Linked DNA regions of Homo sapiens. The gene in region 2 interacts genetically with the main gene of each other region. Each region holds a gene or a part of one and is shown on either strand. Other genes may lie near its edges.

The links. Genes that interact genetically often act in the same process or in processes that back each other up.
Region 1: changes in RBM26 (region 2) and GBF1 together harm fitness more than expected from each alone (negative genetic interaction), as found in Homo sapiens cells (one study listed by BioGRID).

What each region holds. Positions count from the first base shown.
Region 1 is NC_000010.11:102,360,532-102,364,031, forward strand, and holds part of GBF1 (Golgi-specific brefeldin A-resistance guanine nucleotide exchange factor 1), read left to right. Parts: intron 1-490; coding exon 491-589; intron 590-1,186; coding exon 1,187-1,381; intron 1,382-1,943; coding exon 1,944-2,133; intron 2,134-2,724; coding exon 2,725-2,865; intron 2,866-3,178; coding exon 3,179-3,267; intron 3,268-3,500. UniProt on the Homo sapiens protein: Guanine-nucleotide exchange factor (GEF) for members of the Arf family of small GTPases involved in trafficking in the early secretory pathway; its GEF activity initiates the coating of nascent vesicles via the localized generation of activated ARFs through replacement of GDP with GTP.
Region 2 is NC_000013.11:79,357,756-79,361,255, reverse strand, and holds part of RBM26 (RNA-binding protein 26), read left to right. Parts: intron 1-1,569; coding exon 1,570-1,681; intron 1,682-2,822; coding exon 2,823-2,982; intron 2,983-3,500. UniProt on the Homo sapiens protein: May be involved in the turnover of nuclear polyadenylated (pA+) RNA.

The DNA of each region.
Region 1 (3,500 bases), on a different chromosome or scaffold from region 2:
GGGTTCCAGTAGTTCCCCAGGGACTCTGGCAGCCAGAGAGAAATATAGGAATGGCTAGATGTAGAGTTCCCTGGAAGCAATGGACCTCAGTGACACCTTCACTCAGTTTGCCTCTTCTGCCTCTCTTGGTTGAGCCATAGTCAGCTTCAGAAACCTCACAGCCGGGCTGGGTGCAGTGGCTCACGCCTGTAATCCCAGCACTTTGGGAGGCCAAGGCGGGCGGATCACGAGGTCAGGAGATTGAGACCAGCCTGACCAATGTGGTGAAACCCAGTCTCTACTAAAAATATCAAATTAGCTGGGCATGGTGACGTGCGCCTGTAATCCCAGCTTCTTGGGAGGCTGAGGAAGGAGAATATCTTAAACCCAGGAGGCAGAGGTTGCAGTGAGCTGAGATTGCGCCACTGCACTCCAGCGTGGGCAACAGAGTGAAACTCCGCCTCAAAAAAAAAAAAAAAAAACTCATGGCCTACCCTGCTCTCATCTCCAGCTACTCAGCATAGAGCGACTAAACCTTTATGCTGCTTCCCTGCGAGTATGCTTCCTACTGTTTGAGAGCATGCGAGAGCACCTCAAGTTCCAAATGGAGGTGAGTTTCTTGATGTGGAAAGAAAAGGGGGAAAAAAAATAGGGAGATATATGGCATCTTCAGTGGGGCCAGCTCTATCATGCTACAGGGGTAGGATTTAGGGACTTCCTATAGGAGAGTCCTTTTAGCCTCCAGAGTTCGGTTCAATCAACTGGCCTCTTTTGTGGAAAAGTTAAAAGGAGACCAAAGGAAACTGGCTGACCCCAAATATGAGAACTGCCAGGTAACCTTACCATGAATAGGGACAGCTCTTCTGCCCAGCAGTTACTCTGCAACACAGGTAGGTAAGTCAAGCCAGCATTGTCACTAAATTGCTAAAAGGAACTCTAAATAGGACCAGGTCATGTTCACATAGCACAAAAGGGCAAGAGGCAACTTGTCTGGGACCAGGTATGTGGTAGAGAGCCAGGCCTTATCCCCCAACATGGAGGCCAAAGAAGAGATATATTTAGGGGATGGAATACCTTTGGGTGTCTCTTAATACATGCCTCTAGGCTGGGCTTCTGCATCCTGTTTAATGTTTTTCCTGTCTAATTTTTTCTCTTCCTATCTTGAATCCTTTCCCCACCCAAATGGCAATTACTGGGTTATTGCCAGATGTACATCAAAAAGCTTATGGAGATCATCACTGTGGAGAACCCCAAGATGCCTTATGAGATGAAGGAGATGGCACTGGAGGCCATTGTGCAGCTCTGGCGCATCCCCAGCTTTGTCACAGAGCTCTACATCAACTATGATTGTGACTACTACTGTTCCAACCTCTTTGAGGAACTCACAAAGCTGCTGTCCAAGGTGCTGAGCACTATAACTGGCTTCTAGGAAAAAACGCATTATAAAGGAAATCTCCCTGGTGGTAGTGAGGATGTTACATACAGAGAGGGGAACACTTGAGAGCTGGGAAATAGAAGAAAGGCATTTTCTTTTCTTTTCTTTTTTTTTTTTTTTTTTTTTTTTGAGATGGAGTCTCACTCTGTTGCCCAGGCTGGAGTGCAGTGGCGCGATCTCGGCTCACTGCAAGCTCCACCTCCCGGGTTCACACCATTCTCCTGCCTCAGCCTCCCGAGTAGCTGGGACTACAGGTGCCCACCACCACGCCCGGCTAATTTTTTGTATTTTTAGCAGAGACGGGGTTTCACCATGTTAGCCAGGATGGTCTCGATCTCCTGACCTTGTGATCCACCCGCCTCGGCCTCCCAAAGTGCTGGGATTACAGGCATGAGCCACCACGCCCGGCCAGAAAGACGTTTTCTAAGGGCAATGTACAAGTTAGAAGAAGTTTTGGAAATTTTAGAAAATGATCAAAGTGTAAAGTGTTCTCCTAACTACAAGTCCAATTGATCTGTTTACTTTCCAGAATGCCTTCCCTGTGTCTGGTCAACTCTATACAACACACCTACTATCTCTTGATGCCCTATTGACAGTGATTGACAGCACCGAGGCCCACTGCCAGGCTAAAGTCCTCAACAGCCTCACCCAGCAAGAGAAGAAGGAGACAGCCAGACCAAGCTGTGAGATAGTAGATGGCACCCGAGAAGCTAGCAATAGTGAGAGGCATTTCTTTCTTTGATGAACCCAGTGTTCTATGCTTATCCCTTCTCTACTCTCTGAGTCGTTTTTCCTGTCCCCATATCACTTCCCCTGGGATGCTCCCAATTCTGTTTCTGGGCTTTGGCAGTTTAAATCACAGGCCAGTCAGGCAGATTAGTAGAACTCATAGCCTTCTCCCTTTTTCCTCCTCCCCACTTTGGTTTTTTACAGAATTATTATTTCTTTATGGCAAGAGAAGAGAACAGAGATTAAAGAATATAGGATTTCTGTCTCTGAAAGCTCCAGGTCCCACCATCCCTCATCCCCAATATCTGCCTCCACTCTAATTAGTCCTCTCTAGCTCCCCCTTGAAATTTGAGGTTGCAGAAGATCAGGGAAAGTGACTGGGTAATCTCTTCATTAAATTAGAGAATCTAATGCTTGGCTGGGACAGGGACTACTTATTTTGGCTTGGGTTTGTCCTGCTCAGGGCTGGCGCCCTGTGCAGGAACCATGCAGGTCTTCTGGGCTTGGGATTTGATCTATCCTGCAGCTCTGCTTGGCTTCATACCCTATAAGTCTTCACGTATCTTCTTCTCTCTTACCAGCTGAGAGAACTGCCAGCGATGGGAAAGCTGTAGGCATGGCCTCAGACATCCCAGGCCTGCATCTGCCAGGTGGAGGGCGGCTGCCACCAGAACATGGGAAATCAGGATGCAGTGATCTGGAGGAAGCTGTTGACTCTGGGGGTGGGTACTGGGTGTCCATGACCCTAAGCTCCTCACCTGGAGGGCCTGGTGAAGAGCAGAGGGAGGGAGCAGACACCTAGGATAGTAACTAAGCAAGCCTTGGTAGCCCGCCTCGCCTTCAGACTCAGAGAGAGGGAAGCAAACATATGGACCCTCAGTTGATAGGACTTCCAGGGAAGTGGAAGACTGGTGAGGACAAGATTTCTGAGGCTCCTTCTTGAAACTGGGGAGTATATTGGTGACCTTCCAAAAGTCCTTATCTGGGTAAAAAAAGGTGTTACAGATATTTCCCCCCTCTTCTTCCTACTCCTAGCTGACAAAAAGTTTGCCCGGAAGCCACCCCGATTTTCCTGTCTCCTGCCAGATCCACGGGAACTAATTGAAATTAAAAACAAAAAGAAGGTACATACATGTATTCCCCAGCCTCTGTCCACCTCTGTCTGGGTGTCCAGTGTTGTAGGGTTTCCATCTCAGAAGATGAAGGAGAGTCTAGCACCTCATTGTACAGCTTCCTGAGGCCAGTCTTTGGGCTTGTTGGGACTTCAGCAACTCCCATTTGAAGCCCTTCCCTTACTCCTAAGCTATGTAGTTGAGCATACCCTATGTATGCCCCTGCGCAAATGCTGTACCAGTTG
Region 2 (3,500 bases):
TCTCTGTATGTATGGCATATGTGGGTAGTCATATATCAAATATGACTTGACTGGGATGATTGGGAAAATGGTAGTTTCATTAATAGAAATGTTTAAGAAAAATAAAAGATAGACTTAATATGAAAATAATTTGAACGTTCTGCATAGTGAGTTTTGAGATACCTGTAGGATTTCCAGAGAGAACAAAGAAGTTGAAAATTTAGAATTGAGTATATGCTCTCCTCCTGCAGGAGACCATAGCTGTGGCCATGAGAGATATTGTGCTGAAACAGATCTTCAGTTCTTTTGGTTAGTTAGGTGTTTAGAAATATGTAAAAATAGGATTTTAGACAAATCAATTTTGCCATCTATAAAAAAGGAGTTTTTAAGTTACATTTTTCTATGTGGATTAAGGTTTGCATGTTTTAAACTTTGGAGTCATTTGGGAATAACAGGTTAAATGTACTATGCTCATTACATGCCATGTAAGTAAATATAAAATGTTGAAAGTAACAGACTTTTACAGCTCTTTTACACTGTATTTTAGACTTGAATCTTTTCCTTTTTTAAAGCAAGTATGCTTTCATTACATTCATATTTTATGAGTCTATTCCATATTTAAAAGCAGCTCACTTCAATCATAACTCTAACCTTTCACTTCTCAAAGATTATTGGATTAGTGTAAAGTTTTGAATCTTTTAGATTGTGCATTTGATTTCAAAACTATGAACTTAAAGCCTCAAAGTGATTATTTTCTCATTTGTGCATTGATATATATATATATATTTGTGGTGAGGGTGATGGTAGATGGGAACAATGACTTGGGTTTTATCTACAAAGAAGTGACCTACAGAATCACATTTTAATTTGGCATGTGAGAATTGATTCTTTTTCATAGTTAATTGTGAAATGAATATGTTGAAATAAGTTTGAAAAAACCCTTAGATTACTGTATTTGAATGTACAGTAATTCCCCTTTGTCTGTGGGTGATATGTTCCAAGACTCCTCGTGTGTAAAACCACAGAGTACCAAACCCTACATATACTATGCTTTTTCCTATACAGTCACACCTGTGATAAAGTTTCACTTATAAATTAGACACAGTAAGAGCTAAACAACAATGTCTAATAATAAAATGAAATAATTATAACAATATACTATAATAAAAGTTATGTGAATGGTCCCTGTCTTTCTCTGTCAAATATCTTTTTGTATTTACCCTTCTTGGGATGATAGGGGATGATAAAATGCCTACATGATGAGATCAAGTGTTGGAGCAGGATGGTGTGAGATTTTATCACACTACTCAGAACTGCAGGCAGTTTAAAACTTAGGAATTGTTTACTATTTCTGTAGTTTTCCATAATTTTGGACTGTGGTTGACTAGAGATAACTGAAATCGTAAAAATGAAACTGGATAAGGGGGAGCTACTATACATTTATTTCTATTTCTTCTAAAAAAAAAATTATATATATATATATATATTTAGACAAAAGCCAGAAATTTTCCTGTATGAGGAAGGTATCTATGATAAATAGAAAATATTAACCTATGCTTATTTTTTTCATTTTCTTTTGTTTTAAAACAGAAAAGCCTCCCAATAAAAGCAGTATGAGGATAGTAGTGGACTCAGAATCAAGGAAAAGAACCATTGGTTCTGGAGAGCCTGGAGTTCCTACAAAGAAGACTTGGTTTGATAAGTAAGGTGGCCAGGAAAATTGAGGAGTATAATTGTGCATTGATTTTCAGGATCATTTCTGTATTATTATGACAATATGGTTTGGTTTCTTCCAAAAATGTTACTCTGTTCTGTAAGCAATCCCCAAGTGTGAGTTTTCTAAAAATTGGCAAGTTAGTTGTCTGATGTTAGAAAAGCATTTTCTTACAGAAATGGTGTGGTAGTTCAGGGCATAATTTTTTCCTCTTATCATTTACCCTCCTCCAAAAAACCCACTCTTTAACTTAGACCTGTTGAATACTAGCTATATACAGGATAGTCATGAGCCTCTCATCATTAGAGGAAGGAGGTATAGATCAGACCTGTCAAGAGACTTTCATATGTAGGCAGTTCCTGCTAGGTAGGAGCTAGAAAGGGCTTTTGTGGGGGTTGGAGAGGCTGTCTAGGCATTGAATGGTCAAGAAAGAGCTTCAGATAAAGGGGTAAGGAATCAGAATGTTAAGATATGTGTGAGGTGATTCATTTATAAATAAATCTGTGAAGAGAGACTAGGATCACTTTTAGAGCTTTAACATCTACTTAATAATGGATAGTTTCTAGTTGTTTGTGATTAATTCTGTGATTTAATGCAGAGTAACCTCTCTAGGCCACAGTTTTGTCCTTTCTTCAAGTGTCAAAATGTATTCTTTATAGTTCCAACAATTCTTTTTTTCTTTTTTTAAATAAAGCGGGAAAGAGGTTGAGACTGTCATCAAAGAAAATAAAATTTAAAATCAAATTTAAAACATAAAGTTTTAAGATAGGATATTTTTTAGTAAGCTGACTTTTACAGAATCAGAATAAAGGTTATATATGCAAATTGACTAAAAGAGGATATTGAGACTTTTCCTGATAGGAATGTTAAGTAGAGGTGGATCAGAAGTGGAAAGTAACAAATGATATGGCAGAACCCTTCTCAGTTGGCTTCCATGAAAGATACTAACAGTGTTCATTTGGAAACTTCATTGTTGGAAGAAAATTTAAATTTCCTTTATCAACCAGTAATTTCAGTTTGGGGGAAAATTGAACTTAATTGGATATCTATTTTGTTAAACTTTATTCCCTTGTATTTGGTTAGGGTCAGGATTTATAAATGTATTGACTAACTTGAATTTTGTTTGCAGACCAAATTTTAATAGAACAAACAGCCCAGGCTTTCAGAAGAAGGTTCAATTTGGAAATGAAAATACCAAGCTTGAACTTAGAAAAGTTCCTCCAGAATTAAATAATATCAGCAAACTTAATGAACATTTTAGTCGATTTGGAACCTTGGTTAACTTACAGGTAAGAGCCATGAAATGGTTTTGTTATCTCTTCTTTCTGTTTAGGGAACTTAATGTAATAAGAAAACTACCTTTATAAATAAATATTTTAAGGCTGGGCATGGTGGTTCACGCCTGTAATCCCAGCACTTTGGGAGGCCAAGGCGGGCGGATCACCTGAGGTGAGGAATTCGAGACTAGCCTGGCCAACCTGGTGAAACCCCATCTCTACTAAAAATACAAAAATTAGCTCGGTGTGGTGGCAGGCACCTGTAATCCCAGCTACTCGGGAGGTTGAGGCAGGAGAATTGCTTGAATCTGGGAGGCTAAGGTTGCAGCGAGCCGAGATTGCGCCACTGCACTCCAGCCTGGGTGACAAGAGCAAAACTCTGTCTCAAAAAAAAAAAAAAAAAATTGTTATTCTGAATTGGGAAAATTGGACATGAAATGGAACTCTACCTTTTAGGAAAAAATACAATTTTTAGTGTTTCAATTGATCATATTATCATAAACTTTTTACCTAATAAAGGTTGTCATAAA